Regions from separate parts of the Homo sapiens genome. Here all the other regions are linked to region 1. Evidence: fine-mapped expression QTL. A gene starts in region 1. Each other region holds a variant in brackets. All regions are shown on one strand. Distances are between the middles of the regions. Region 1 holds the start of XRCC1 (X-ray repair cross complementing 1). Region 2 overlaps ZNF576 (zinc finger protein 576). Region 3 overlaps ZNF575 (zinc finger protein 575).

The links.
Region 2: its variant is fine-mapped to the expression of XRCC1 in fibroblasts (GENCORD, PIP 0.95).
Region 3: its variant is fine-mapped to the expression of XRCC1 in transverse colon (GTEx, PIP above 0.99).

Annotation. Positions count from the first base shown.
Region 1 is chr19:43,569,378-43,580,168 of GRCh38, reverse strand. It overlaps XRCC1 (X-ray repair cross complementing 1), which reads left to right and starts at 4,642. Exons shown (of 17, transcript NM_006297.3): 1 at 4,642-4,761; 2 at 5,167-5,259. The coding sequence starts at 4,711. PINLYP (phospholipase A2 inhibitor and LY6/PLAUR domain containing) reads right to left here and starts at 4,368. Exons shown (of 6, transcript NM_001193621.3): 1 at 3,250-4,368; 2 at 2,908-3,054; 3 at 1,463-1,579. The coding sequence starts at 2,977. RefSeq lists enhancers at 3,216-3,741, 3,742-4,268, 4,269-4,428 and a silencer at 4,529-4,688.
Region 2 is chr19:43,596,746-43,607,203 of GRCh38, reverse strand. It overlaps ZNF576 (zinc finger protein 576), which reads right to left. Exons shown (of 3, transcript NM_001145347.2): 2 at 10,011-10,110; 3 at 6,047-8,373. The coding sequence starts at 10,095. The coding sequence ends at 7,946. Among named protein-coding and RNA genes, the nearest start is that of ZNF576, 5.4 kb to the right of the region's middle. The variant G/TG (reference allele first, on the strand shown) is at 3,537.
Region 3 is chr19:43,534,485-43,545,275 of GRCh38, reverse strand. It overlaps ZNF575 (zinc finger protein 575), which reads right to left. Exons shown (of 4, transcript NM_174945.3): 3 at 10,775-10,791; 4 at 9,189-10,247. The coding sequence ends at 9,589. It overlaps XRCC1 (X-ray repair cross complementing 1), which reads left to right. Exons shown (of 17, transcript NM_006297.3): 15 at 1,042-1,132; 16 at 1,589-1,664; 17 at 1,771-1,965. The coding sequence ends at 1,884. Among named protein-coding and RNA genes, the nearest start is that of ZNF575, 6.7 kb to the right of the region's middle. The variant G/A (reference allele first, on the strand shown) is at 4,334.

The DNA of each region.
Region 1 (10,791 bases):
ACGCTGGCTGGGTGATTTTCGATCTCACTTTCCTTTCACAGCCTCTCCCGACCAGTGTTTTCTCCCTGCACCCAAAGTCGCCTTTATTCCCTCACCAGGCCTCATCATCTCTCCTCCTGTGATTGAAAGTCTCTTTCAGCTTTGTATAAACATCTCTGTCCCCCACTGGTCTCTTCCATTGCTCCCTTTCTCCTCCATCATTTTTCAGGTCTGGGGTGGTCTCTTTCATTTAACTCATGCCCATCTTCTCTCTTCCATTTTATTTTCTGAGACAGGTTTCCCTCTGTTGCCCAGGCTGGAGTGCAGCGGTGTGCACTTAGCTCGCTGCAGCCTCGATCTCCTAAGCTCAAGTGATCCTCCTGCCTCAGCCTCCCAAGTGGCTGGGACTACAGGCATGTGCCACCATGCGCAACTATTTTTTTTTTTTTTTTTCTGTAGAGATGGATCTCTTTTTGTTGTCCAGGCTGGTCTCAAACTCCTGGGCTCAAACGATCCTCCCACCTCAACCTCCCAAAGTGCTGGGATTACAGGCGTGAACCACCGTGCCCGGCCTCCCTTTCATTTTACTCATCCACATCTCCCCCTCCCTGTCTCTGCTTCTCCTCTTTACGATGATTTGCTCAGCCAGGCACGGTAGCTCATGCCTGTAATCCCAGCACTTTGGGAGGTCGAGGCGGGAGAATCACTTGAGGTCAGGAGTTAGAGACCAGCCTGGCCAACATGGCGAAACCCCGTCTCTACTAAAAAATACAAAAATTAGCCAGGTGTGGTGGCACGCACCTGTAATTCCAGCTACTCGGGAGGCTGAGGCAGGAGAATCGCTTGAACCTGGGAAGTGGAGGTTGCAGTGAGCAGAGATCGCGCCATTGCACTCCATCCTGGGTGACAGAGCGAGACTCTGTCTCAAAAAAGAAAAAAAATGATTTGCTCCATACTTCAAGGTTATCATCCATCTCCTGTTTGGGGTGATCCCTTTTCTGTCTCTTCCACCACTCCAACACTCCACCATCATCTCTCCTCCCTCGGTCAGGAATGACCTCTTCCCTGATTACACTTACACTTTCCCACCCCAGCCCAGCCTCTTCCTTCTCTATCCACTCCCCACCATTTCCACCTCCTGCCAGTTAGATTCTTCCCCTCTCACTATTTCTCTGCCCCCCACAGTGTCTTTCCTTACCCCTCTTCTGCCTAAGAAAGTCTATTAACTCTCACCCCTCCCACATTTTCCTTCTCTTTAGGACAGTGTCATTTTCAGAATTCTGTGACAATAATGATTTCTATCACACCACTTATTTCTGTTCCCTCCATCTCATGATGGTCTTTCCCTCTTTCCTGCTCTCCACTGATTTCTTCCCACGCTCCCGTCTTGAGAACCATGATGATCCCCCCTCAGCATGGTAGTCTCTTCCACCCTGAAGGTACACCCCACCTCCCCACCAGGTCCCAGGCCACATCCTCTTACTTGAAGTAGCCTTCCCGACCAGGAGCACACATGTGTCCTTGTCACTGCTGCAGGTCTTCATTTGGCCATGGCACCTGCTCCCCGCCGCCGTACATATTTCGCAGTGTAGTGGGCACCCTGCAGTGTAGACAGAGGGCGAGGCTGTAGTCATGGGTGGTGTGGTCTTCGGACCACGACTTTGACTTAGGACTTTTGTGTCCTGAGAGAGGAGGGACCAGCAGCTCCCTGGTTTTTCATGGGCGGGATGTTGACCACTGCCCAAGGAACTGTCCAGAGTTGGACGAAGAAGCAGTGGTGATGCCAGCAAAGCTGCTTCCAGGGGCGGGAAGCGACTCCACCATGAAGCCTGTTTGCCTAATTACATGGCTGGGGATTTTGGATGCCAGGGTCCGCTGAGAAAGCTCAGGGGCAGGGAGGGGTCGTGATGGAGGTTTCCATGGACTTTTGTGAAACTTCAGGTCCAGCTGGTTCTTGAATGTGGGATTCTCCTCCTTGAAGGTGCCATGTAGGTCTTGTAGACAGCAGGAGCTCAGGCAGGGGGCCCTGAGGCTAGGGTCTGCATCCCAGGTCAAGGAGGGAGAGTGAGGACCAGGAGGGCAGAGGACTTGAACTTCTTGGTTCTGAGAGAGGGGACAGCTAGGGGCCCAGAAACCTGGGTCCTGGGGAAAGTGAGGCTTACTTGGACTCCTGTGTGCAGGGGAGGAGGGGGCTGGGGCCTGAACTTCTTAGTCTAAGGAGAAAGGAAATCTCTCTACCTCTTTTAAAAAAATATATCATATGATATTAATGTATTTTTTTTGAGATGGAGTTTTGCTCTGTCACCCAGGCTGGGGAGTGCAGTGGCACGATCTTGGCTCACTGCAACCTTTGCCTCCCAGTTTCAAGCAATCCTCTCACCTCAGCCTCCCAAGTAGCTAGGATTACAGGCGCCCACCACCAAGCTCAGCTAACTTTTTTTGTATTTTTAGTAAAGACGGGGTTTCACCATGTTGGCCAGGCTGGTCTTGAACTCCTGACCTCAAGTGATCCACCTGCCTCGGCCTCTTAAAGTGCTGGGGTTACAGGCATGAGCCACCGCACCTGGCCTTCTCCCTCTTTTTTTTTTTTTAATTATATTTTTAAAGATTTCCCTTTCCAGCCATGCTCTCATCTGATTTCCTAGAATTGAGATGTGTTTGGGATCCTTCCTGGAGGATGGAGGATTCAGAGCCCACCAAGCCCCTCTCTCAGGGATCCAATCACAGGAGCTTTTCTTCTCTGGGACCCCCAGGCTTTCTCTTCCTTTACCCTTGGCCTCTTCCATGAATCTGAATTTCCAGAATGCCTCCCCGTTCACCTTGAGGACTTGCTGAAGGCTCTTTCTCTCTCTATATCTCTCTCTCTCTCAATCTGGGACCTCTCTCTTCCTGAGGTCCCAGAGACAGTTCAGGTCCCTTGTCACTTACCAAGACCCAGGAGGGTGCAGAGCAACACAAAGGCCAGCAGAAAGGTCTCTGGTCTCCTGGAGAGCCTCATGGTGTGTGTATCAGCAGTACCTGGTCCCCAGCTTTTATAGGAAGCTGAGGAGGGGTGGGTCTGGACCCACATTCACCCTACGGGGAGAAATAGCTGAGGTCAGAACCCAGGGCAGTCCTCTGTGGCCTCCGGGTTGGGAAGGCAGAACCAGAATCCAAAAGTGACCTGGGCATCTTGTGCCCAGCCCCCCACCTCCATGGAGACCCCAGGAGTCTGGGCTTCCATCCCCCTCTTCTATTAGAACCCAGAAAGTCACCACCCTGTTTTCTCACCTTCCCACGGCCCATTGTTGTTTGTTTGTTTGCTTGAAGACCAAGACGGAGTTGGGCCTCTTGATTCCCAGTGGCTGCAAGAACTGGGATTCCCTCTCCTTCTCTCTCTTCCCCTCTCCTCCCAAGGAAGCACCCAGTGTGGGTAGGGCCCCACCTTGGAGCACCCAGCATGTCCAGGCTGGTCCTGCGGGTGCGGGGTGCCTTGTCTCCCTTCCCCTCTCTTCATGTGCTCGGCTCACACTCCTTGTGTGTTTGGGCTGTCTCCAGCTGCGACCCCACCCAGGGCTGCACCCTTGGGTCTCCAAGGCACCGAATGAACAGAGGGATGTCTGTCGGCAGTCATAGGCGGGCGTAGTAAAAGACAGATGCCCACAGTCCACATATTGGGAAACTGAGGCTTTTGTGGAAGAACTCCAGGATAGGGGTGTGTGTGTGTGTGTGTGGTGGGGGTTGGGCACATGCTTTGTGTTATATTTAGGACGCAGAACCCTTCTCTTTTGGCCTCAGGCATAAGGCTGAAAGAGATCTGCTAATTTTTTTCGCGCGTGCGCGCGCGCGTATGTATGTATATGTGCGTGTGTGTGTGTGTGGCAAGGGGACAGAGAGAAGAGTGCAGCCGCCTGAGCCATTTGAAGAGATCCTGTTGCGTAGAATCCAGGTTCCCTACGAAACTACGAAAATTCACTCAGATTTGCTGTCCTAGCCCAGCGCAGTCGCTCACGCCTGTAGTTCCAGCACTTTGAGAGGCCGAGGCAGGTGGATCGCTTGAGCTGAGGAGTTCGAGACCAGTCTGGGCAACATGGCAAGACCCGCCGCCCTCTCACCCCATGTCTCCACAAAAAATACAAAAATTAGCCGAATGTGGTGGCGCGTGCGTGTAATCCCAGCTACTTAGGAGGCTGAAGTGGGAGGATCCCTTGGCCCCAGGAGACAGGGGTTGCAGAAAGCCGAGATCGTGCCACTGCACTCCATCCTGGGTGAGAGAGCAAGACCCTGTCTCAACAAAAAATTTTTAAAAAATAAAATAAATAATAATACAGCAAAAAGATTTGCTTTCTCGGCTTCAGTGTGGGCGGTAACTCCATCGTGCAATGAGAAAGGCGAATTTCTTCCAGACACCAATCCCGGAGGTCGCTTCTGTTGCTAGGCTCCCAGAAAGCAGGGTTCGGACGTCATTGGGAGGCGAGGCTAGAGCGGGGTTGTGTGTGGCGGAGGGAGGCGGGGCTGGAGGAAACGCTCGTTGCTAAGGAACGCAGCGCTCTTCCCGCTCTGGAGAGGCGCGACTGGGCTTGCGCAGTGTCGACGCCGGCGCCGGCGCGCCGGGGTTTGAAAGGCCCGAGCCTCGCGCGCTTGCGCACTTTAGCCAGCGCAGGGCGCACCCCGCCCCCTCCCACTCTCCCTGCCCCTCGGACCCCATACTCTACCTCATCCTTCTGGCCAGGCGAAGCCCACGACGTTGACATGCCGGAGATCCGCCTCCGCCATGTCGTGTCCTGCAGCAGCCAGGACTCGGTGAGGGACCTGCATGGGGGAGGTTGGAAGACGTGAGGGAATTAATGAGGATAGCTCTTAAAAGAGCTTTTGGGGTTCTCTTGGAAGTCTAAGGAGAGTCATGGGGGGATTTCCAGGAGGCTAAAAGTGAATTGTGGAGAGATGTTGAATTAGGGACGTTCCGGCGTCTAGGGAACTTCCGGAGAGAAAAGGAGGAATAGGGAAGCTTTCTTGGAGAGCCCATAGGTGAACTTCCACGGGAAAGTGTTGTAGGGGAAACTCCAGGCAGAGTGTCGGGGGATTAACGGGAGAGCTTAAATCTGGGGGTCGTAGAGGCCTTGGGAGGACTCAAAGGAATCATCTGAGAGCTGGAGGCCTAGCTGTCATCTCTGTGCCCTAATTCTCCTCTCCCACTGTTGTTTCCAGACTCACTGTGCAGAAAATCTTCTCAAGGCAGACACTTACCGAAAATGGCGGGCAGCCAAGGCAGGCGAGAAGACCATCTCTGTGGTCCTACAGGTGATCCTGCCACCCCACCTCCTCCTCACTAGGAGTCTGGAGTCCGGGGTTCCAGATTCTGCTCCTGAGCCAACTGGCAGTGGGTTTAGTCACTTTCTTTGCTGGGCCTCAGCTTCCTTACTCGGAAAATGGGCAGCATAATCCCTGTGCCCCTCAGCAGAGAGGAAAGGAGACCCAAGGATTAAGTCCAGGATGACCACAGGAATCAGTGTGTGGTCCTGGGCAGGTGGCATCTACTTTCTGGGTTCCAGTTTCCTCAGCTGGAACAAAATGAATCATTGCCACGTACTCTGCCTCCTGCAGCCAGTGGGCTCAGGGCTGGAAGGTGTCCAGGAAGGTCGTCTAAGCCAATCAACTCCACTTTAAAGAAGGGGAAACTGGCCGGATGCCGTGGCTCATGCCTGTAAACCCAGCACTTTCAGAGCCTGAGATGGGAGGATTGCTTGAGCTCAGGAGTTCCAGACCAGCCTGGGCAACATATCAAGACCCTGTCTCTATTTTTATTAAAATAAATAATTTTTTTTAAAGAATAATAGCCAGGTATGGTGGTTCACACCTGTAATCCCATCACTTTGGGAGGCCGAAGCTGGAGTATTGCATGAGCCCAGGAGTTTGAGACCAGCCTGGGCAATACAGTAAGATGTCATCTCTACCAAAATTTTATAGATTAGCTGAGTATGGTGGTGTGCACCTGCAATCCCAGCTACTGGCGAGTCTGAGGTGAGAGAATTGCTTGAGCCCAGGAGATGGAGGCTGCAGTGAGCTGAGATTGTGCCACTGCACTCCAGCCTGGGCACCAGAGTGAGACCCCCAAAATATAAAAAATAAAATAATAATAATGAGAGCTGGCATTATTCAACGTTACCTGTCAGTCGCTGCTCTACACACCTCACTCACATGGATTAGCTCATTGAGTCCTCATAAAAAACCCCAAGAGGCAGGCTCTGTTATCCCCACTTTTACAGATGAGGAAACTGAGGCCCAAAGAAGTTATACAATTTGCCTGACAGTCAATCTTTTATTTATCTGTTGAGACAGAGTCTCACTCTGTTCCCAGGCTGTAGTGCAGTGGCATGATCTTGGCTTGGCTCACTGCAGCCTCTACCTCCTGGGCTCAAGCGATCCTCCCACCTCAGCCTCCTGAGTAGCTGGGACTGCAGGTGTGCACCACCATGCCTGGCTAGTTTTTTTTGTATTTTTTTAGAGATGGGGTTTCCACCATGTTGCCAGGCTGGTCTCAAACTCCTGGGCTCAAGCGTTCCTCCTGCTTCAGCCTCCCAAAGTGCTCGGATGACAGGCATGAACCATTGTTCCTGGCCTGGGGGCTGCTTTATGACTATAAGGAGCAGAACACTCTGTGGATAGTGCTAGGGTGACGGAAAAATTAACCTTTTGTGAATGGGCAGTCATTCAGCAAATATCCACTCCTCTCCCTCCCACTGGAGGGGGAGTATATTTCCCTGCTCCATTGATGAGTTTGACCATATGATTTACTTAATGGAATTTCAGCACATCTAACTTCAGCAAGGGCCTTAAATGCACTTGGCTTTTGTGCTCCCATAATATGCCATGAGAACATTTGCCAGGTTACTGCTAATCCCAGAAAACTGTGGAATCTCATGGAAGAGACCTGAATCCTCCCAAACTGCAGCCAAAGCAGCCATCCCACAAATTCTTATAAGAATGCTTGTTGGTATAAGTCTCAGTTTTCATGTTGGGAGGTCGAGGTGGGTGAATCGCTTGAACCCAGGAGTTTGAGACCAGCCTGGGTAACATGGGGAAACCCTATCTCTACGAAAAATTATAAAAAATAGCTGGGCTTGGTGGCGTATGCCTGTAGTCCCAGCTACCAGGGAGGCTGAGCGGGGAGGATTGATTGAGCCCATAAGGTTGAAGCTGCAGTGAACTGTGATGGTTTCACTGCACTCCGGCCTGTGAGACAGAGTGAGACTGTATCTCAAAAAAAAAAAAAAAAAAAAAAAGAAAAGATCTCAGTTTTAGGATGATTTGTTACACAGCATTATTACAGTGTAAGTTAATACAACTTGGTTGTTTTAAACCACTGAGATTAGGGACTCCTTTGTTACTGTAACATCATCTGGTCCACCCCAATTGATGTCAGTGTTTAGTGCCTGTCAACTAATGGCCTCCACTTCCCAGGTTCAAATGATTCTCATGCCTCAGCCTTCTGAGTAGTTGGAATTTACATGCCTGGCTAATTTTTGTATTTATAATAGAGACCGAGTTTTGCCATGTTGGCTAGGCTGGTCTTGAACTCCTGACCTCAGGAGTTCAAGGCAAATGAGCACCAAATGCTAATTTAAGTGATCCACCCACCTTGGCCTCCCAAAATGTTGGGATTACAGGCATGAGCCACTGCACCTGACCTCAGTCTTTTAAACTGTGATAGATACAGATTGCTGACAGTTTTAGTCTTGAGATCTAGATTCAAGCCCCCAGCTCTTCCTCTTAATCGGTGACCTCAAGAAAATTGTTTCATTTCTCTAACCTGTTTTCTCATGTGTCCATTGGGAATAATGACATCCAAGCCCGGAGTTGTGAAAATTCGGTGACATAATGTCTGCACAAGTGCTCTGTCAACATGTAGGTGTTTGTGTAGAGGGAGGGATTTGTGTTTTTATTACTTAGTGGGTGATGATTCCACTGGGCTCTCTTATGATCAAGTGACTCCAGGGAAATCACATTTCATTCTGTTACCCCAGTTGCTGTGGAAACAGAGTGACTGGAGGCAGAAGAGACAGAACCTGTCTCTGGCCTGGGAGAGACTGAGGGAGTATTGCAGCGGTCACCAACATGGTAAACCCCAGAGGGAGCAGCTTGGGGAGGTGATGTGTTTCAGTTGGGATGTCCAGGTTTGATGTGACTTTGGGACATTCTAGGGGTGGCATCCAGGAGGCAGTTGGGGATCACATGTGGAGCTGAAGACAGAATGTGGGGAAGTTGTCAGTGCAGAGAAAGAACCTATAGACTCGGGAGTAGATGATGGATTTATTTGTTCATTCACTCATTTATTTAGTCAAGTATTTATTAAGTGCCTTCTGTAGGCCAAGCACTGTTTTAATACAGCAGTACACAGCAGAAGACAAAAAATATTCACTCTCAGTGGGGTGCAGTAAGCTCACGCCTATAATCCCAGCACTTTGGGAGGCCAAGGCCTGGCAGTTCGAGACCAGCTTGGGCAACACAGGGAAACTTCATCTCTACTAAAAATACAAAAATCTGCCAAGCGTGGTGGCCTATGCCTGTGGTCCCAGCTACTCCAGAGGCTGAGGCGGGAGGATCACTTGAGCCTGGAAGATCAAGGCTGTAGTGAGCTATGATCGCACCATTGCGCTCCAGCCTGGGCAACAGAATGAGATGCTGTCTCTTAAAAACAAAAGAAATTCAGTCTTGTGGAGCTTTCACGTTAGTAGGGAAAGACTGACAAATGAGTCAGTGAAACATATGTTGGATGATGAGTGCTATGGAGGAACTTAATGAAGGGGAATGAGAGTGCCCCAGCTGGAGCTGGAGCAGTGGCAAGGATTTTTATTTAAATAGTAGGGTCCGGGAAGGCCTCCCTGAAAAGGGGACATTTGAGCAACATGAGCTATGTATGTATCTAGGGAAAAGACTCTGAAGCTGGCTTGTGACAGCAAGGAGGCCAGTATGGCTGGGGTGGAGTCAGCCAGGGGGAGAGAGGTAGGAGATGAGGTAACAGGGTGGGACTGGGAACCCCTAAAAAACCACTTAAGGCCTGGAAAGCCATTGAAAGGACTTGAGCTTTTACTCCAGGTGTGAGATAGGAGCCACCGGAGGGCTCCGAGCAGAGGAGGGACAGGATCTGCCTTAGGCCTTCACAGGATCCTGCTGGCTCCATGTTGACAATCAACTGCAGGGGCCACACACAGGAGTGGGAGATCAGCATTGCAGCAGTTGTTTTGTTAACTTACTCCACGTCAGAGACCCTTTGGAATGACTGATTGCATCTGGCAATGACTAATTTGTGGGGTTACTCTGGATTCATCAAATGCTAATTTTGATTCTTTTGACGTAACTGATAAAGGCAGACATTTCTGGCCACCAAGGCAGTAGGCTTATCTCTGGGTTGTTATGTTATGTTTTGAGACAGGGTCTCACTCTCTTGCCCAGGTTGGAGTGCAGTTGCAAAGTCATGGCTCACTGTAGCCTCAACCTCCTGGGCTCAGGCAATCCTCCCACCTCAGCCTCCCAGATAGCTGGGACTACAGGCGTGTGCCGCCAGGCCCAGCTAATTTTAAAAATTTTTCGTAGAGATGGGGTCTCACTATGTTGCCCAGCCTGGTCTCGGACTCCTGAGCTCAAGCAGTCCTCCTGTCTTGGCCTCCCAAAGTGCTGGCATTACAGGCATGAGCCACTGCACCTGGCCACATCTGTGGGTTCTTCTACTACCCTGCATTTTCTCCTCTAATTATTGTTATGCAAAATCTCGATCTTACCACATGGGGCTTAGCCATCTGCTTATGACAGCCCCACACACCTGGTTGTTTGCAGTAGCCACAGCAGGCTCTGTTGTCTGTTCATCACCTGCTCCCAGAGGGAAATGCCAACCTCTTTGCTAACTACTCCTGGGCTGGAGGGGTGGCTTGGACAAGACCCAGATATAACTCTGGTGTGTCACTGGAGGTGTGTCATTTTTAGAAGAAATGTTCATCAGCAATAGGGCCTATGGTCATTTTTGATTGTTATTGGTTTTCTAATCACTCAGTTCGCCACTGTGGTGTCTTAAATTTGTTTTTACTGTTTTTTGATGTGTAACATACATAGAGTGAAGTGAAGGTGTAAGTAAGAGTACAGCTCAGTGACTCTTTGCAAACTGCAGCCCTGTGTACTCCACACCCAGATGCAGCACAGAACATGCCTAGCCCCCAGCAGTTCCCTCAGGTTCTTTCTGTCAGTACCCCTGCAAGGGTAACCACTGTCCTGATTGTTAACAGCATAGATTCATTTTGCCTGATTTTGAATTGCATATAAAATGGAATCGTGTGGTATAAACTTTTCTTATCTGGCTTCCCTTGTTATGTTTGTTCATTTCATCTATGTCGTTCAGTGTAGCTGTAGATGATTTATTGTGATTTTTTTTTTTTCTGAGACGGAGTTTCGTCTTGTTGTTCTGGCTGGAGTGCAATGGCACAATCTCAGCTCACTGCAACCTCCGCCTCCCAGGTTCAAGTGGTTCTCTTGCCTCAGCCTCCCAAGTAGCTGGGATTACAGGCATGCACCACCACGCCTGGCTAATTTTTTGTATTTAGTAGAGACAGGTTTTCACCATGTTGGTCAGGCTGGTCTCGAACTCCTGACCTCTAGTGATCCACCTGCCTTGGCCTCCCAAAGTGCTGGGATTACAGGCATGAGCCACTGTGCTCGACTCCTATTGTCTTTTTTTTTTTTTTTTGAGACAGGGTCTCACTATGTTGCCCAGGCTGGAGTGCAGTGGCACCATCTCAGCTCACTACAGGCTCGACCTCCCGGGCTCAAGCGATCCTCCCACCT
Region 2 (10,458 bases), 27 kb before region 1:
CATTTGGGGACCCAGGCCATCCCTTAAGCCTGTTGTCTCCCCCATGGTCCAGACTGGGTGGCCATAGCCTGGGTCCTGCTGGCAGAAGAGGACAGGATGCCTGGTGAGGTGCACGTGTTGTCTTACAAGCCCTGGCCTGCCAGGGGCACACACTGCTTCCATTGACACGCCTTTGCTGAGAAATTAGATATGTGGCCGCAGCTAACTGCAAAAACAACCTGGGAGAAGCAGTCTAGCCAAGCGCCCAGAAAGCAGAAAACAGTTCATGGAGGACAGCTAGGGCTTTCTGCCACATAGCCTAGGAACTTCCACAAAGAGGACTTTAATTATAATCACAGCTACGCTTTCTCAGCGCTTCCTGGGTATCTGGTGCCAGTCCAAGGGCTTTATATATATTGACTCATAGAAATGGTGCATCTAGGAACTTACAAAAATAGAACCTTAATGATAATTGCAGCTGCCATTTTCCCAGCACTTACAGAGTGCTGTACTTAATTTGCATGAGATTATCAGCTTCTTAGAATAACCCTGTGAGACAGGGATTGTGATCCATTAATTCATTTAACAAATATTTTTGAGTACCTGCTGTGTGCTAAGCATTGGGAACACAGCAGTGAATAAAATAAAATCGTTGTCCTCATGGAGCTTACATGGGAGTGGGTAGAGGCTGCTGGTGAAGACAGACATAAACAAGTAAGATACAGCATATGCCGGGTGCTGATAAATGCTGTGAGAACAATAAAGCACTGAAAGGAGGCCCGGCATGGTGGCTCACTCCTGAAATCCCAGCACTGAGGTGGGTGGATCGCTTGAGCCCAGGAGTTTGAGACCAGCCTGGGCAGCATGCCAAAACCCCATCTCTACAAAATACAAAAAATTAGCTGGGCTAACGATGGTACACGGCTATAGTCCTAGTACTAGGGAGGCTTAGGTGGGAGGATTGCTGGAGCCTAAGAAGTGTCGCTGCACTCCAGCCTGGGCAACAGTGAGACCCTGTCTCAAAAAAAAACCACACACACACACACACACACAAAAAAAAAACTGAAGGAAGGCCAGGTGCAGTGGCTCACACCTATAATTCCAGCACTTTGGGAGGCCGAGGTGGGAAGATTTCTTGAGCCCAGGAGTTGAAGGCCAGCCTGGGCAACACAGTGAGACCCCATCTACAAAAAATTAAATTAGCTGGGCTTGGTGGTGCATGCCTATGGTCCCAGCTATTCAGGATCACTTGAGGCTTGGAGGTTGAGGCTGGAGTGGCCTGTAATTGTGCCACTGTGCTCACTGCACTCTAGCCTGGATGATGGCAGGAATTTGTTGCAAGAAAAAAATTTAAAAAAGGACTGAAGGGAGAACTGTTCTGGAAGGAGGTTGCAATTTTAAAGAGTATAGTCCTCCCTGAGAAGGTGACAGATCTGAAGCCGGGGGGAGCCATGTACATCAATGGGGAAGAGCACTTCAGGCTGGAGGAGGCAGGAGCCTGCCTGGTGTGCCAAGGAGGCGAGAGCTGTAGGGATGAGGTCAAAGGGTAGCAAAGGACCAGCTCTTTACAGCCTTGCCAAAACTTGGGCTCAGAGATGGGAAGTACTAATTCGTAATTCACAGAAGCTTGGCGCCGAAGCTACTTTGAAAATAGAAGCCTAATTATAATAATAGCTATCATTTACTGAGAATTTACTGGGCAACCAGCCCTGTTCTAAGGCGCTTTACATGTGTTAACTCATAGAAGGTTGGAGACTAAGAACCTTCAAGAATAGAACCTGAATTACTGTAATGGCCATCATTAAGTCAGCGCTCACGGTGGACCAGGCCCTGGGCTCAGTGCTTTATGTGGACAGTCACATCAGATCCTTACAAGTTAGGGACTGTTACTTGTTTACTCATTCACCCAACAATGATTTATTGAGCACCTATGAGATGGCAGGCACTGCTCTGGGAGTTGGAAATATAGCAGTCAACACAATGAACAAAAACCCCCTCCCTTTGTGGAGGTTATAATGGGGAAGACAGTAATCAAGTATTTAAGTAAAATATACAAATTGTGGCTGGGCGCGGTGGCTCATGCTTGTAATCCCAGCACTTTGGGAGGCCGAGGCGGGCGGATCAAGAGGTCAGGAGATTGAGACCACGGTGAAACCCCGTCTCTGCTAAAAATATAAAAAATTAGCTGGGCATGGTGGCGGGCACCTGTAGTCCCAGCTACTCGGAGAGGCTGAGGCAAGAGAATGGCATGAACCCGGGAGGCAGAGCTTGCAGTGAGCTGAGATCGCGCCACTGCACTCCAGCCTGGGCGACAGAGCGAGACTGTCTCAAAAAAAAAAAAAAAAAAAATACAAATTTTATGGAATGTTAGTCATAAGTGCTATGGAGAAAAAGGAACAGGGTGGGAAGCTTGTGTGTGTGAAGGTTGCAGTTTTAAGTAGGGTGGTCAAGGAAGGCTTCACTGAGATGACATCAGAGCAGAGACCTAGAGAAGGGGCAGGAGTGAGCCTTGTGGCTGTCTGTGGGGACAGTAAATGCAATGGCCCGAGGTGGGAGCCCACTTGGGGTGCTTGGGAAGAGAACACAGGGCCACGAGGCTGGAACTGAGGAAGACAGGTAAGAGGTGAGGTCAGAAAGTAGCGGAGAACCAGGCCGTAAGAGCCATATACTGACTTTGGCATTGTCTCCAAGTCTGAGTCCTCACAGTAATCTGAGTGCTCATAATAATCCTTAGAGGCTACCTTTATGACTATTTTATAACTGCTACAACAGGCCAGGCATGGTTGCTCATGCCTGTAATCTCAGCAGCTTGGGAGGCCAAGGCAGGTGGATTGCCTGAGGTCGGGAGTTTGAGACCAGCCTGGCCAACATGGTGAAACCCCATCTCTACTAAAAATACAAAAACTTAGCTGAGTGTGGTGGTGCGTGCCTGTTGTCCCAGCTACTTGGGAGGCTGAGGCAGGAGAATCGCTCGTACCTGGGAGGCGGAGGTTGCAGTGAGCCCAGATTGCACCACTGCACTCCAGCCTGGGCAATAGAGCAAGACTCCGTCTCCAAAAAAAAAAAAAAATCTGCTACAACAGAGGCACAGGGAGGTTGAGTTACCTGCCAGAGGTCACAAAGCCAGTAAGCAGCAGAGCCCTGGTTTGTACCCAGACAACTGGATGCAGGTGCATCCACTCTTAACCACTAAGCCACACACCAGAAATGGCAGTCTAGTGCCCACAGCCACCATCTGACTTAGAGGAGTGTATCTGGTCTCCACAGAGCTATTGAATTTTTTTAAGTTACGTTGGTTACCAATGTTGAAAAATGGGTAATTTCACATTTAAAAAAATTGAAGTTTCTGGACTGTCTCGAAAATTGTGAGATCTATATTGCTGAACCCCCAGTTCCCATGGGGATAGTGGTTTGTTGGTGCTGAGAAGGAGTCACTTTCTGTAGGGGAGGCATTCACTCTTATGTGCCCAGTCACCAATGCCTCACATCTGGACACCCCTACCCTGCCTGCTTGGCCCTGAAGAGCATCTGCTTTTTTTTTTTTTTTTTTTTTTTTT[G/TG]AGACGGAGTCTCGCTCTGTCGCCCAGGCTGGAGTGTAGTGGACATGATCTCAGCTCACTGCAGCCTCTGCATTCTGGGTTCAAGCGATTCTCATGCCTCAGCCTTCTGAGTAGCTGGGACCACAGGCGCGGTACTACCACCCCCGGCTAATTTTTGTATTTTTAGTAGAGATGCAGTTTCACCATGTTGGCCAGGCTGGTCTCGAACTCCTGACCTCAAATGATCCGCCCGCCTTGGCCTCCCAGAGTGCTGGGATTACAGGCGTGAGCCACCGTGCCTGGCCAGCATTTACATTTTTGACACCTATTACAGGATTTCAGACCAAAGCATTTTTCAAAACCCACGTTTCTCATCCCAGAATCTCCAAACCTGACATTGATACACTCTGAACTGAGACTTTCCTAGCCACTATAGCTTAGCATCATGGAACCTCAGAATCATCAGCAGAAATTCCAGGCTCATTAAAACAACAGAGTCTTAGTCCGTTTGTGCGGCTGTAACAAAATACCTGAGACTGGGTAATTCATAAAGAGCAAAGGTTAATTCCTCATAGTTCTGGAGAGTGGTTAAGTCCCAGGTCAGGGAACCAGCAGATTTGGTGTCTAATTAAGGGTTGCTCTCTGCTTCCAAGTTGGTGCCTTCTTGCTGCATCCTTACACAGTGGAAGGTGGCAGAAAGGGATGAATGCTGTGTCCTCAGATGGTAGGAGAGATGGAAGGGGAGAAGGCCTAGCTACTTCCCTTGGGTCCTTTTCTAAGGGCACTTATCTTGTTCATGAGGGCAGAGCCCCTGTGACTTAACCATCTCCTAAAGGCCCCATGTCTGAATACTATCACATGGGGTCTTAGGTTCCCAACATATGAATATTAGGGGGACACATACATTCAACTATAGCACATGGATAAGTGTGATCATAGGTTTTGTTTCCTGGAGCAGCACCCCATCCTGTCTTCTGCCATAAGACAGGACTTCTAAGGACAAATATAGAGAATTTCCATCCATTGGCAAATATTCCTAAGGATCACAAGAGGCACTATCAATCAGGAGTTGGGTCATTCAGCCAGCACCCATTCAGGATATGGAGTCAGGCCAGGCATTCCCCAAAGAGGATTTAATACAGGGAATAGTTACACAGGTGTTAGAAGGCTGAAAGTCAGCCAGGCACGGTGGCTCACGCCTGTAATCCTAGCACTTTGGGAGATCGAGGTGGGCGGATTGTTTGAGCCGAGGAGTTCAAGACCAGCCTGAACAACATGGTGAAACTCCATCTCTACAAAAAATTAGCTGTTCATAGTAGTGCACACCTGTAGTCCCAGCTACAGGGAGGGAGGTGGAGGTGGGAGGATCATCTGAGCCTGAGGAGATCAAGGCTGCAGTGAGCCAAGATCTTACCACTGCACTCTATCCTGGGCTACACAGCGAGACCCTGTCTGAAGGGGAAAAAAAAAAAAAAAAAAAAAATGAAGGCCAGGTGCAGTGGCTCACACCTATAATCCCAGCACTTTGGGAGGCCCAGGCGGGCAGATCACTGAAGGCCAGGAGTTTTGAGATCAGCCTGAGCAACATAATGAAACCCCGTCTCTACTAAAAATACAAAAAATTAGCCAGTTATAGTGGTGCACACCTGTAATCCCAGCTACTCGGGAGGCTGGGGCTGGAAAATTGCCTGAATCCAGGAGGCGGAGGCTTCAGTGAGCTGAGATCACACCACTGCACTCCAGCCTGGGAGACAAAGTGAGACTCAAAAAAGAAAAAAGAATTTAAGAGTGCACAGTTTACTAACATGATGGCAATGGTGGTGCAGGTTGGGCCGCAGGAGTCCTGTTGACCCATTTTAAGTTTGAGATCTCCATTTGTTTATTCAAGTGGTTATATCTTATGTCTGGGGTTTGGGCTGCAGATAAAGATGTGGATGTCATCAGTGATGCTATTTAGAGAATCTGTGATGTCTGGAGAGAACAGGAAGCCCAGGGTGTACTTGGGCAGGCTGCTATCTTGGGAGAGCATGTGGGATTAGATACTTAGGTTTGGTTTAGGGGAGCCACTGTGGGGGTAGTGTGACAATATCTGGGTTGGAAACTTCGGAGCATTCACCAGGAGCCAGAGGAAATATCTGGCTCTTCATGAAGTTGGTATCTTGAAAAAAACTGATGGTCTACTAACTCCAACCAGTCTCCCCATAAGTCACCCCAGCAAAGAGATCCAGGGTAGCCCTGCCCCAAAACACACACACACACACATACCCTACCTACCTACCTACCTGGTAAAGATGGTGGTTCCCAGGATGGAAATTTCTGCTTCCAGACTCAGAGTAGGTTGAATGTCTTATTAGACCAGGGGTTGGCAAACTTCTCCTGTAAAGGGCTAGATGGTAACTATTTTAAGTTCTGTAGGCCTTAAAATCTCTGTTGCAACTATGCAGATCTGCTGTTCTAGGCAAAAGCAGCCATCAACGATACATAAGTGAATGAGTATAAAACTGTTCAAATAAAATTTTATTTGCAAAACCAGGCAGCAGGCTAGAGTTGGCCATAGTTTGCAGACCCCTGTCTTAGGCTGTAAATTCTGTTGCATGTGACAGAGACCCAAAATAATGGTGGCTTAAATAAGATAGAAGTTTCTTTCTTAGATAGCAATATGGAAGTGGGCTGGTATGGTGGCTGTGCTCCTTGAAATTGACGAGAGACCCAGGCTCCTATCTTGTTGCTCTGTCTTCCCACGTGTTGCTCTTATCCTTATGGTCTGAGATGGCTGGATACCATTTCCGTATTACAGTTAGGAAGGTGGAAAAAAGGTATGTCCCTTTCTTTTCTTTTTTTTTAAACAGTCTCACTCTGTCACCCAGGCTGAAGTGCAATGGCACGATCTTGGCTCACTGCAACCTGTCTCCCAGGTTCAAGCAATTCTCCTGCCTCAGCCTCCCAAGTAGCTGGGATTACAGGCATATGCCACCACACCCGGCTAATTTTTGTATTTTTGGTAGAGACAGGGTTTCACCATGTTGGCCAGGCTGGTCTCAAACTCCTGACCTCAGGTGATCCACCGGCCTCAGCCTCACAAAGTGCTGGGATTACAGGCGTGAGCCACTGTGCCCAGCCGTCCCTTTCTTAAGCTTGACTGTTCTACCCAGGAATTTAGCCAGAAATCAGTCACAAGGCCACATCTAGCTGCAAAGGAATCTGGGAAATGCAGTCTTTTCAGCTACTGTGTGCCTAGCTAAAAACAGAGACAGTGATCAGTCTACCACATCCACCTCACCTGTGGGCTTTAAAAACATCCCTCAACATAAACAGAGTCTATAAGTATTATATGCAAGGCATCGACCATTGTCTGCAGGTGCAGGGCAGGTAACTAAGGGGGTAAAACTGGCCTGGTGGGACTCATCTCCAGTTGAGGGTGACACCCACTGCTCCCTCCAGCCTGTTGTAACTTCTGTCCTGCCCCTGCTGACAATGTCAGCCTAGGTTGGGCCTTTCAAGAGAGCTGAAAATAGGATCTTAATGGGAAATCTCCCAGTGTTGGCCAAATAAAACCCGAAACAGAAGGTATCTCTGTTTGATTCCAAACCAGTTTCCCCACAAAGCGAGGCCAACTCTGGCCTGAGTTCCCCCACCTGCCCACACCCTTATGTTCTCTGGAAATTCCCACTCAAAAGCCAGAGCTCCCTGTTTAGACATTTTAATATGGATGTTTTCTGTTTTTAGATACTATTCCTGTTAGCTTATTCATACCATTTCACCTACACATATGAAAAAAATATTTCAGGACTAGAATGATATACAAAATTATTTCAACGAGACATAAATTATCGGGGGACTAGTGCCATCTAGTGCCATGGCCCCTCTAAGTGAGGATGGCAGGGGGTGGAAAAGAGACACAAGGACTCCAATTGCTACCCCCACTCAATTGGGGTCCAGCTCCCAACTTTGCTGCCCCATCCCCAAAAGCCCAAGTTGCTCCACATCTGGAACTCACCTGGTGGCATTACAGGCCAGCAACACCTCACCTTTCCTGCCCCCATTCAGGCAAAGGTCCAGGGCAATTTGCTCCCATAGCCCATGGCATCCATCTGGGAAGAATGAAGGGTGATGGCACAATCTGCAGCTAGGTATTTAACTGGGAATAAGGGAGACACAAACCATTTCTCTCCCGCACTCCCTTCCCATTTTTTTTTTTTAACAAAAGATCTCATTATTATCTGATTTCACTGTCTCACGAAGGCCCTGTGTGCTCCAAAGACTGAAGCTCTAAATAAGAATCTTCTGGGTCCTCTTTATTAAGAGCCCTCTGCCTTCCCAGGGGAGGGAAGCAAATCCTTCAGGGCCCCCAGAGTTCCTGCACCCCATATCATGGGTGAGTCCTACCAGCCACAGAGCCACCCGTCACCGTGGAGAGGCTTAAGCTGCACTCAGAGCTCCCCCCGGGCATGCCGAATGTAGTGTTGATGCAGCCCTGCTTCCTGAGCAAAGTCCTGACCGCACTCTGTGCAGGCGAAGGTGCCAGGAGGGGCACGGACCTCATGCATCTGGCGGTGCCGCCTCAGAGAAACAGCCTGCCCAAAGGTCTTGCCACAGTCAGGACAAGGGAAGGTGGGCTGGGCAGTAGTGGTTGCAACCGGCAGGGTGGGCTTGGCGGCTGGACCGTGGCTGCGCTGGTGGGTGATTAGGGCTTTGGAGGAGGGGAAGGAGCGGGCGCAGGTGAAGCAGATGAAGAGGACCCCCTGCAGCTTCTGGGCCACGAAGTCCGCTGGGTGCTCCCGCTTCATGTGACGCTCCTGGAACTTGGAATCTGCGAAGGTGATGAGGCAGCGGGTGCACTTCGGGGCCCCCAGGTGGCCTGAGGAATGTGGGGGAGAGGTCAGGGGAGGCCAGCAGGAGTCTCCAAGACCTCTTCCTGAACCCCAGAATCACACCAACAATTAACATTGAATGTGTTATGTGCTAGGTTCTATGCTAATGCTGGACAACCAAACAGGAGAACTGTTCTTGCACCTATTTTATGGATGAGCAAACTGAGATTCAAAGAGGTTAGGCAAGTTGCCCATAGTCATGAGGCTAGGAAAGGAAATGGTGGAGCCAGGGTTGGAACCCAGAGAGTCAGCCTGCCCAACAGAGGGGTATGGTGATTACAGCACAGCCTTTGGAGCCAGACTGCTTGGGATTGAATCTCACCTCCACCACTTCCTAGGCAATTACACCAGTTTCCTTATCTGGAAAATGGGCTAATAACAGTATCTACTCCATAGGACCGTTGGAAGGAATAAATGAATTGCTGTACAGTCATTTGCAATTATGACTAATGATACAGAGAAATCCAGCCCGACATCCAGGATCTGGCCTGGTACTCACAGCTAGACCTTGGTGTTCTGTTGAACATAAATTTTCACAGAATATCAAGGACAGACAAGGCCACGCTGTGACTAAAATGAATCAAGACAAGACTACATCATCATAATGTCTGAGCACAGACAAAATATGAATACTGTCCAAGCAGAAAAATGACCAAACATCCTCCTATCCTGGCTAATGTGAATGTCTGCTGCTGCTTTATCAGTCAGAGCTTGAGCCTCGCCTCCTTCCTTCCTCCTTCTGGGTAAGATTTATTACGATAGCCAATCATAGAATTGCCCCTGCTTCCTGGTAGCATCCAATCCAGAGCAAAACAATTTTGCTTGAACCTTCCCCAAAATCACCACCCACAAGCCCAAATCCTGTGTCGTTTTTACCATTCTTAGTGAGACACCCCACAGTCCCCCCATGGTCTGTGTTCATTGCAGTGAGAAACCCAACGTGTTCAACTGCAGGTGTGTTCCTGGTAGTCTCTGGCTCAAGGGCATTGAGACTACAGCTCTTGTTACAAATACCTCTCTCTGCCTCAGTTCCCAGTTTAAAGGGCCTATTATTAGAAGGACTCAATGAGATAATGAATGTTAAAATGGTTCATAATATGAGAATAAATACACCTAGCTCATAATAAAACACTGAGCAGGAGGTGTTGCTATTACATGTCAAACTGGCTACCATCATTAACCCCTAGCTTTCCCCTTTGCTGCAGTTAATCCCATACCCACCCTGTGAGGTGGGAAGTACCACCCTCTTTTGACAGTCAAGGAAACCAAGGCCCAAGTTACACTGAAAGTCTAGGGCAGAGTTGGGACCAGAATCTTGGGGTTTCTCTCCCAATAGAACCATTCCCAGCCACATCTCCAACCCAAGCCTCTCCTGGAAGCCACCCTATCCCTCTGAATGCATAAGCATTGCAATCCTGCTTATGTGGCCAGAGGAGGGTGAGTACTCTGGCCACATAAGCTGGTGTGAGGAGATGCACTTCCTGCTAGAGCAGCTCAGGGACCATTACAGCCCCTTCTCAACAGGCAAAACTCTGTGGCGCCTTGGACACCGAAGTGCCACAGAGATCTTAGCATCAGCTCCTGCACCCCACCCTCCTCTAGCCCGCCAGCCATGTGTACTCACAGATGTTGCCTCCTGGGCTCTGGGGACTTCTCTCCTTGGGTGAATCCTGCTGCTTCATGTTCTCTTCAGGGTTCGGGTCCTCCATGGTGCTGGGACCCTTCTAGTCAGGAGAGGAGCGTGCATAAGTGAAGCTGTTCATCTGTTACCAGTCTTAGAGGGCACCCTAAGTCTATGACCTTTGACATCGCCAGAGGCTCTCCTTGCCTGCCTTTGACCCCTACGACATACTATCTCCTTGAACTCTAATTGATGGAGTTCTTGCTAAAAGAAGCTTCAAACCTCCCAAAGGACTGGATTTCCTGGGTTTGGGACTCCCCTAGAGTCTTCTCACTGGTGTGACCTATGACCTGCTGCATCAAACTAACTCCCTGAACTCAGCGTGGAAGCCTTGATCTTTGACACCAGCGTCATCCCAATCTCAAGTGTCTTGGGGCAGGTAGTGATACCC
Region 3 (10,791 bases), 35 kb after region 1:
GGGCAGGGAGGCAGAGCTTCTTCGAGAATGAAGGGAGCAGAGGAAAGACAGTCACGGGCTGTGCAGAGGTGTGGTTCTGGGGCTTCCAGAAGAGCCGTTTCCACCCAGTTCCTCGTGGGTGATGGGCAGGAAGATGCTTTGATTCTCCCAAGCCCCTAAAGTGGCATCAGCAAATTGATGGCCTAGAGAGTCACCTTAAAATGGAAAGAAGGAGCCACCCCAAAGGTCAGAACAAGAAAGGCACTGGTTGGAAAGGAGAGCAAAGGTGAAGAAGTGGCAGATACTGACGTTTTCAGCCTGGACTAAGCTCATTAAGTGGCTCCAGGCAGGCCAGGCGTGGTGGCTCACCCCGTACTTTGAGAGGCCGAGGTGGGAGGACTGCTTGAGTCCAAGAGTTCAAGACCAGCCTGGGCAACATAGTGAGACCCCCCCCGACCCCCGCCTTTACAAAACATTTTAAAAATTAGCCGAGCGTGGTGGTGTGCTACTCAGTAGTCCTGGCTACTCAGGAGGCTGAGGTGGGAGGATTGCTTGAGCCCAAGAGTTTGAGACCAGCCTGAGCAACATGTCAATACCCCGTCTCTCTACAAAAAGTTTAAAAATTAGTCTGGCTTGGTGGCATGCACCTGTAGTCCCAGCTACTGGGGAGGCTGAGATGGGAGAATCACTTGAGCCCAGGAGGCAGAGGTTGCAGTGAGGCAAGATCACGCCACTGCACTCCAGCCTGGGCGACAGAGTGAGTCCTTGTCTTAAAAAAAAAAAAGAGAGAGAGAGAGGTAAGTGGCTCCAGCCTGTCGGTCAGAAACAAATCACAATAATAGGCATTGTATCTTCTACCATTAAAGCAAACCAACCAACCAACCAACCTACCTCCCCAGGAGGCTCTGATGGGCCGCTGGGCAGGGTCCACTGCCTGCCATCAATCCCTGCCCACATGTGGACAGCCCTCTCCTCAGCTGCTGGGTCAGCCTCGTCACTCCTGTTTGGTGCCTGGGAACTCCTGGGGCCTCATGCTTACCTTAGCCCCCTTCTCTCCTGCAGATTTCTTCCAGGGCAAGCACTTCTTTCTTTACGGGGAGTTCCCTGGGGACGAGCGGCGGAAACTCATCCGATACGTCACAGCCTTCAATGGGTGAGTCTCCAGGGACTGGGGTGGGGAAGGGGTGATGGATCCAAGGGAACGCTCAGGGACCTGCTGGGAGGGGTGGGGGTGTGGGAAAGAAGACCATCAGGAGGATGGAGAAGGGCCATGCCCAGCAGGTGGGCACAGGTCATGGAATCCGAATGCTAGCTTGCCCACCACCGGCAGCCCAGGGTGCATTGCTTGCCTCAGTTTCCTCTTCTGTATGGCGAGGATCCCTACCCCTACCCCTGCTTCTGAAAGGGACAGCCTGAGGATTAGCCACTGTGGGAGCTCTGGTCATTGTGGCTGTGGCAAGATGGATACATGAAAGAATGGAGCCTAGAGGCAACCTAGAGGCGCATAGGTGGGGACAGTGTGGGGACAGCCATTGAGAGTGGCTGGGGAGTAGGACGTCAGTGCTGATTCCCTGATGTGCCTTCTACCTCTTTTCTTCTCTCCCGCCAGGGAGCTCGAGGACTATATGAGTGACCGGGTTCAGTTTGTGATCACAGCACAGGAATGGGATCCCAGCTTTGAGGAGGTGAGTACCAAAGAGGCAGAGAATGGGAGACCCGGGCACACCTTTGCATCTCCTCCGTCCTCCCCTCGATGACACATTCCCGTATGGACTCCACCCCACCCTGCAGGCCCTGATGGACAACCCCTCCCTGGCATTCGTTCGTCCCCGATGGATCTACAGTTGCAATGAGAAGCAGAAGTTACTTCCTCACCAGCTCTATGGGGTGGTGCCGCAAGCCTGAAGTATGTGCTATACACACACACACACACACACACACACACACACACACACGATGCATTTAATAAAGATGAGTTGGTTCTCATCCAAGAGTCTCCCAAAACTCTAAGAGGCTCCCTGGGACCTGGGGAAGAATGCTGGGCACCTCCGTCAGAGATCTGGTAGAGAAGGAACTCTTTGTCTCTTCTGCTTGGCCCCTTATCCCTGTGTTGGCAAGAGGCAGGGAACTGGGAATCTGACCCTCAGCACTGCCCCTCAACTTTTTCTGGCCCTCTGAGCCACACCTGTATCTTGGCTGTCCCTTTGTGGCTGGAGGCCTGGGTACCCATGAGGCTTGTCTCTCTCCTGAAGCCTCAGCGTCCCCAGGCCAGGGATAGTGCCTTTCCTCCAGGGTTTTCAGAAGTAGCTGTATAATGAATGTCACCACTGTGGTTTTACATCACCTAATTTAGGAGGTAGAATGGGAGGAAGGGACATTTTAAGCAACCTACCCAAACCCTGCACCCCCTTCAAGGCTCCACCACATTTAAGTGGGAATTGAGGTGATTGTGAGGGAATCAGGGCAGAGGATGGGATGGTGCTCTAGGCAGAGGCCATAGCATGGGCCAGGAGGTGGGAAGCAGCCTGAGGCAGGCAGAAGAGCATTGCTGCCTTTGGCAAAGAGGCTTTGGGGGCAGATTTAGAAAGCCAGGCACAGTCCTTGCAGCTCTGCTGTCCAGTGTGATCACCACTGGGTACAGGTGGCTATTTAAATTAATTAAAATGAAATGAAATGAAATGTAAACTTCACTTCCATAGTCACACTGGCCATGCATTTCAATTGCTCAGTGGCTATTGTATTAGGCAGTACAGAGAACATTTGCATCAGTCTAGAAAGGTCTTTTGGACAGGGCTGGCCTGAAGGTCTGCGAACTCCAGGCTGAGAAGCCTGGACTTTAATCTGAGGGTGGGAAGGTTGGGAGGGGGTTTGAGCAGGACAGAGGCCAGGGTCAGAGGTAGGTTTGAGATCTGACCTTTGGGTAACCTTTTATTGGACATTCCAAGCCCTTTCCCAACTTTTGCCTCATCAACCAAGGGCTACCAGTCTCACTCCTGTCTCTTTCTGGACCTTTGTTTTTGCATCTTTAAGATGAGGGTGGTTTATTATTATTATTATTATTATTATTATTATTATTATTATTAGAGACAGGGTCTTGCTCTGTTGCCCAGGCTGAAGTGCAGTGGTGCAATCATTGTTCACTCCAGCCTCGAACTCCTGGGCCCAAGCGATCCTCCTGCTTCAGCCTCCTGAGCAGCTGGGACTATAGGCATGTACCACCACACCTGATAAATTTTCTATTTTTTGTAGAGATGGGCTCTCACTATGTTGCCCAGGCTGGCCTCGAACTTCTGGCCTCAAGCAGTCTTCCCGCCTTGGCCTCCTAAAGTGCTGGGATTACAGGTGTTGAGCCACACTGCCCAGCTAAGGGTGGCTTTAGACTTCATGTTCACTCATTCGTTTGCTCATTCACACTCCCACCGATAACTCACCATGTTAGTTTTGTACTACTGCTATAACAAATTATCACAAGCTCAGTGGCTTAAAATAATAGAAATTTATGATCTTACAGGTTTGGAGGTCTGAAGTCCAAAATGGGTATCCTTGGGCTAAAAATCAAGGTAGGCAGGGCTGCGTTCCTTCTGGAGGCTTGAGGGGAGAATCTGTTTTCTTGTCTTTTCCAGCTTCTAGAAGCCACCCACATTCCATTCACCTTCTATATTCCAGGCCTGCAATGGCCTGTTGAGTCCTTCTCACATCCCATCACCCTGACCTTGACTCTTCTGTTCCATACTTCCACATGTAAAGATCTTTGTTATTGTAGGCCAGGCGCAGGGGCTCACGCCTGTAATCCCAGCACTTTGGGAGGCCGAGGGGGGTGGATCACCTGAGGTTGGGAGTTTGAGACCAGCCTGACCAACATGGAGAAACTCCATCTCTACTAAAAATACAAAATGAGCCGGATGTGGTGGCATATGCCTGTAATCCCAGCTACGTGGGAGGCTGAGGCAGGAGAATCGCTTGAACCCGGGCGGCGGAGGTTGCAGTGAGCTGAGATCATGCCATTGCACTTCAGCCTGGGCAACAAGAGATCTTTGTGATTACATTAAGCCTACCTAGATCATTTGGGATAATCTCCCTGTTTTTTTGTTTTTGAGACGGAGTCTTGCTCTATCACGCAGGCTGGAGTGCAGTGGTGTGTTCTTGGCTCACTGCAACCTCTGCCTCCCAGGTTCAAGCAATTCTCTGCCTTAGCCACCCGAGTACCTGGGATTCCAGGCGCCTGCCATCATGCCCAGCTAATTTTTGTATTTTTAGTAGAGACGGGGTTTCGCCATGTTGGCCAGGCAGGTCTCGAACTCCTGACTTCAGGTGACCCACTCGCCTCAGCCATTCAAAGTGCTGGATTACAGGC[G/A]TGAGCCACTGTGCCCAGCTGGGATGTGAACATCTTTGGGAGGCCATTACTCTGCCTACCAAAGCCACCATGTGGGGGACACTGGGAAGACAGTATGAAAAAAACAGTAGTCCCCGATCTCATTGGCCTGACATTGTACAGGGGGAGAGAGATGGTGCACGTGCAATGCAACCTTGGACAGTGGGAAATGCTGTGAGAGCAAGGAAAATAGAGCATTGTGAGTGACAGAGCAATGGCAGGGTCCTGGTAGTTTATAGATAGGATGATTGGGGATGGCCTCTTGGAGGACTTACCCCTCTGCAGGGACCTGGGAGAAGTAAGGAGTATCTGAGAGAGCCCTTCCAGGTAGAGGAAAAGCAAGTGCAAAGGCCCCGAGGCAGGAGCGAGCATTATGTGTTCAAGGAACAGCTGGGTGGGTGTCAGGCTATCAAGAGACCTAGGATCCACCTAGACTCAGGTACTGCCCTGTGGTTTGGTTGCCAATAAATCTCATCTTTCCTGGCCTCATTTCCCCAATCTGTAAAAGTAAGGTTGGACCAGATCAACGCCCTCTCACATGAGTATGTGTCTTTGAAATTTTGCTGCTGGTGTGGTTGCTTTGGAGAAATTCTTCCGGACAGTTCTCTGCATAAACGTGGATACAAGCAGCACTGCTGGGTTGGGAGGACAGAGTAGAACCCTTACCCCTCCCAAAACCTTCCCCGAAATGCCTTACTGAGTAGAGTGCAGTTCAGCAGCCTGCTCAGTCCTAGCCCTTAGGCTGGACACTTTCTTTTCTCCTACTTTTATTTTAAGTTCGGGGGTACATGTGCAGGATGTGCAGTTTTGTTTCATAGGTAAATACATGCCATGGTGGTTTGCTGCACAGATCATCCCATCACCTGAGTATTAACCCCAGCGTGCATTAGGTATACTTCCTGATGCTCTTCCTAGCCCCCCACCCCCACCCCCTGACAGGCCCCAGTGTGTGTTGTTCCCCTGATGTGTTCTTTTTTTTTTTTCTGAGGCAGAGTCTCACTCTGTCGCCCAGGCTGGAGTGCAGTGGCATGATCTTGGCTCACTGCAACCTCTGCCTCCTGGGTTCAAGGGATTCTTGTGCCTCAGCCTCCCGAGTAGCTGGGATTACAGGCGTTTGCCACCACGCCCAGCTAATTTTTGTTTTTTAGTAGAGGGGGGTTTTGCCACGTTGGCCAGGCTGGTTTTGAACTGACCTCAGGTGATATGCCCGCCTCCACCTCCCAAAGTGCTGGGATTACAGGCGTGAGGCACCATGCCCGGCCATGTCCATGTGTTCTCATCATTCAGCTCCAACTTATAAGTGAGAACATGCAGTGTTTGATTTTCTGTTCCTGCGTTAGTTTGCTGAGGATAATGGCTTCCAGCTCCATCCATGTCCCTGCAAAAGATGTGATCTCATTCCATTTTATGGCTGCATAGTATTCCGTGGTGTATATGTACCAAATTTTCTTTATCCAATCTATGGACACTTTCTACTCTCTCACTCCTTCCACCACAACTTTCAGATCTCAGTTCAGACATTACATCCTCAACAAGGCCTTTCCTAACCTCCACTGTATAATAGGATATGCCAGGTACACACTCTTAAAATACTATATCTCATCCATCCTAGTCATAACTTTACATTCATTTATGGTCACATTTACCCATGTTTTCATCTATGATTTACATTCTTTTGTCTCTTAAGGATACTGTCTCTACTTCTGGAGTTACTAAGATAATTCTTCTTATTTCCATGTAAATATTTTTGAGTTCTTCTCTTCAGATTTAGATCTTAAACTCCCAGAAACTTGTTTTTGCATATGGTGTGAGGTAGGGATCTGCAGTAGTTTCCCATTGTTGCTGTAACAAATTGCCATAAGCTTAGTGGTTTTAAACTACACAAGTTAATTTTATTATAGTTCTGGAGGTCAGTAGTCCAAAATCAGCCTTATTGGGCTAAAATCAAGTGTCAGCAGGGCTGCAATCCTTCTGGAGGCTCTAAGGAGGAATTTATTTCCTTGCCCTTTGTAGGCAAAATTCCTTGACTTGGGGCCTTTCATCACTCGAATGTTTGCTTTCATGATCACCTCTCTCTGTCTTCTGCGTCCTTCTTTCCCATATAAGGACCTTTGTGATTATATTGGGCCTATCTGAATAATCAGGATAACTTACCCATCTCAATCACATCTGCAATGTCCCTTTTGCTACATGCAAGCTAACATACAGGTTCTGGGGATTCAAATGTGGATATCTTTGGGGGATCATTCTTCTACATACCAGGGGATTCAACTTAATTTTTCCCCATGTCTCTTAGCCTTATTTATGATTAGTCTGTCCATCCTCCACTCATCCATGTCAAGGCTCAACAAACTATAGCCCATAGGCAAAATCCAGCCTACCTAGTGTTTTGGTAAATGTTTATTGGAACACAGCCATGCTCATTCATTTATGTATTGTAATGTGTGTGGCTGCTTTCCTGCTACAGTGGCAGAGTGGAATAGTTGTGGAAGACACTGTATGGCCTGCAAAACTTAAACATATAACAGATGCAGCTGGGCTTGGCGGCCCACGCCTGGAATCCCAGGACATTGGGAGGCCAAGACAGGAAGATCACTTGAGGCTAGGAGATTGAGACCAGCCTGGGCAACATAGTGAGACCCCATCTCTACAAAAAAATTTACAAAAAAAATTTAGCTGGGGGCTGGGCGCAGTGACTCACGTCTGTAATTCCAGCACTTTGGGAGGCCAAGGCAGGTGGACCACTTGAGGTCAGGAGTTAGACCAGCCTGGTCAACATGGTGAAACCCCATCTCTACTAAAAATACAAAAATTAGCTGGGCATGGTGGTGCACACCTGAAATCCCAGCTACTCAGGAGGCTGAGGTAGGAGAAGCTTGAGCCCAGGAGGCAGAGGTAGGTTGCAGTGAGCGGCGATCATGCCACTGCATTCCAGCCTGGACAACAAAGCAAGACTCCATCTCAAAAATAAATAAGCCGGGTGTGGTGGTGCTTGCCTGTAGTCCCAGCTACTTGGGAGGCTGAGGTAGGAGGATCGCTTGCGCCCAGGAATTCAGGGCAATGAGCTGCGATTGTGCCACTGCACTCCAGCCTGGACAACAGAGCAAGACCCTGTCTAAAAAACAAAACAAAACAAAACAAAACAAAAAAAACCCAATGCCCTTTGACTTACAATGATGCTACATCCGGATGAACCCATCATAAAGTTGGAGAATCCTGAAATCAAACCATTGTTAAGTCAGGGGACATCTGTACTCTTTGGCCCTTTATAGAAAAAGGTTGCCACTCCCAGGTCTACAGGTCCAGTTTGTCATATGTCAGCATAAGCACAGGTCTGTTTCTGAGCTCTCAATTGTCTTCCACTGGCCCGTTTTCAAGCCACCACCACCAATTTCATTACTGCACAGCTTTGTAATCTTGTATCTGGGTTGAGGGGGTGGGGAGCCAAGGCTCTCCTACTTGTTCTTCTAAATGGACTTGGGGCCGGGCATGGTGGCTCATGCCTGTAATCCTAGCACTTTGGGAGGCCAAAGTGGGAGTCCAGAAGTTCAGACTAGCCTGGGCAACATAGACCCTGTCTCTACATACATACACACATGGATGAATGAATGACTTGGCTGCTGCTGCTTTTTTTTTTTTTTTTGAGGCAGGCTCTCTGTCGCCCAGGCTGGAGTGCAGTGGTGCAACCTTGGCTCACTGCAACCTCGTCTCCCGCGTCCAAGCGATTCTCATACCTCAGCCTCCCAAGTAGCTGGGATTACAGGTGCATGCCACCATGTCCAGCTAGTTTTTGTATTTTTAGTAGAGATGGAGTTTCGCCATGCTGACCAGGCTGGTTTTGAACTCCTGACCTCAAGTTATCCGCCTGCCTCAGCCTCCCAAAGTGCTGGGATTACAGGCCTGAGCCACTCTGCCTGGTCTGCTGCTGCTTTTTAAAATTAGTGTTCACTTTCCTCACTAGACAAGGTCTGTCTTCAATGCTGTGTCCCCAACACCCCATGCAGGGACCAGCACACAGGAGGTGCTTAGTATTTGTGGAATGAAGAACATTCCAATGTTAGCTTGTTCATCCTTATTTTATAATGAGAGAAACAGGCTCCATAAGGGGAACTGACTTTGCCTGAGGTGTTGCTTGCCCCTTACAAATGCCTTATAACCCACCCATTTTACAACAAAGGCATCTGAATCCAGAGGAGTGACAAAGCTTGTCCAAGGCCTGGCAACTTGTAAGAAGTGGGTCAGGGATGGGTCTGAATCTTGGGCTTTTTTTGTTTTTCTTTTTGAGATGGGGTCTCGCTCTGTCACCCAGACTGGAAGGCAGTGGCACCATCACAGCTCATGGCAGCCTTGACCTGCCAGCTCAAGTGATCCACCTTCCTCAGTCTCCCAAGTAGCTGGGACTAAGGTACATGCCACCACAGCCAGCTTTTTTTTTTTTTTTGGTAGAGATGGTGTCTCGCTATGTTGCCCAGACTGCTCTTGAACTGGCCTCAAGCTAACCAAAGTGCTGGCATTATAGGCGTGAACCACCACACCCAGCCTGAAGCTTGGGCTTTTGAATGTCTTTAAATGGTCAGTGGTATATACCCTTTGTTCTTGCTCTTATCACCTAGTGTATCGGAGATTTTTCCACATCAGTACATATAGCGCTTCCTTTTTTCCTATGGCTACCTATTCCATTCCATGGCTGTAATTCAATAGTCGGTCCCCTGTTCTTGGGCACTTGAGTTGCTTCCAGTCTTTGGCCACAACAGTCGCACTGCAGTGAACACCCTTAACACTATGCTTTTTTTTCACATTCATGAGTTTATAGAATAAATTCCTACAAGTGGAAGAGTTGAGACAAGCATGTATGTATTTTCAATTTCTTAGATACCGTCATATGGCCAAAGTGGAGACACCAGTTTAAACTTTTAACAAGAGAGCCTGTTTGCCCACAATCCTCATCAACCCACGATAGTAGCAGACTTTTTACCTTTGCCATGTAAGTGTGTGGGGAGAAGCAGAGCCAGCGCTGTCAAACCACAGCTCCACGTCCATGGTTTGAGATCTCCCCAAAGCAGGGGAGCAAAGAGTTCCTCGGGCTTCTGAGCTCGAGCCCAGTATAAATGGCCAATCCCTTGCCCTGCCCTCTGCCAGCTATCTGGAAGAGGCGAGCTCATACAGTCGGTCTTAGAAATCCCACCTCTTACTGGCTAGGGCTGGCGGCAGAAGGGGACAGTGAGCCAAGGGAGGGCTCAGTCTCTCTCCCCCTTGTGCTCCACCTGGTGGTGGCTGCGTTGATGAAGGAGCAGTAAGCGTCTCTGGCCAAAGGCCTGGCCGCAGCTGGAGCATCGGTGCCAGGCAGTCGCCTGGCTGCCGGGCGCGGTTGGGGGGTCGTGACATAGGCGATGGGCGGCCAGCTTGGAGGGAAATGAGAAAGCCTTGGGGCAATGCGGGCAAGGATAGGGGCGGGCGTCGGTGGCGTGGTGCGTGTGGCGGTGGGCCGCCAGCTTGGAAGGGTAGCAGAAGGACTTGGGGCAGTCGGGGCACGGGTAGGGGCGGGTGGGTGCGTGGGTCCAGAGGTGAGCCGCCAGCTTGGAGCGGTGGCCAAAGGACTTCGGGCAGTGTGGGCACGGGTGCGGGCGGGCGCCGCTGTGCGTGAGGCGGTGGGCTGCCAGCTTGGAGGGGTAGGAGAAGGCCTTGGGGCAGTCTGGGCATGGGTGGGGTCGGGCGCCTCCGTGTGCTAAGCGGTGCGTGGCCAGCTTGGACGGGTACGAGAAGGCCTTGTCACAGTCGGGGCAGCGGTGCGGGCGCTGGGGCGGGGGCCGCCGGCGAGGCCGGGGAGGCGAGCCCGCGGACGCGGTGGGCCCTGGAGCTGACTGGCTGGGCTTCTGCGGTGGGCCCTGGTGGGGAGCTGGGGGACAGGAGGGCTGGTGGGCTCCAGGAAGCAGCCAACGCCCTGGGCCTAGGCCAGGCTCCGCCACGACTTTGATATTCGTGGGGCTCCTCCAAGTGTACCTGGGCACCTCAAGCATCACATTGAGACTCCCCAAATTGCATGTTTCTGCTCCCCCCTCCCCCCAGGCGTCATTCTGAGGGACTCCAAAGGGTTACTTTCCTGGATCCCCAAAGCTACTAAGGCTTCCTCAAAGCTACCAAGGTATCCGTTTCTAGTATCTTCCCAGTGATCACCCTGACATCCCGCATGTCATCCCTGACCCGTCCCTTCTGTAAGGCTCATTTCCTGAGCCTTAGCAAATGGTCACTGAGGCTCTCTCTGAGCCAAATGGGAGGATTTCCCAGAATGTGGCAGTTTTGGGGATCCCAAATAGTCATCACCCTAGGGCCCTCAAATTTTCACCCTGAGATTCCCCCAGAATGTGATTATTTTGGCCCCCGTTCCTGGAGAATGCTCCCTACTCACAGGCGGGGCACTCTCACCTTCTTTGGTCACTGGT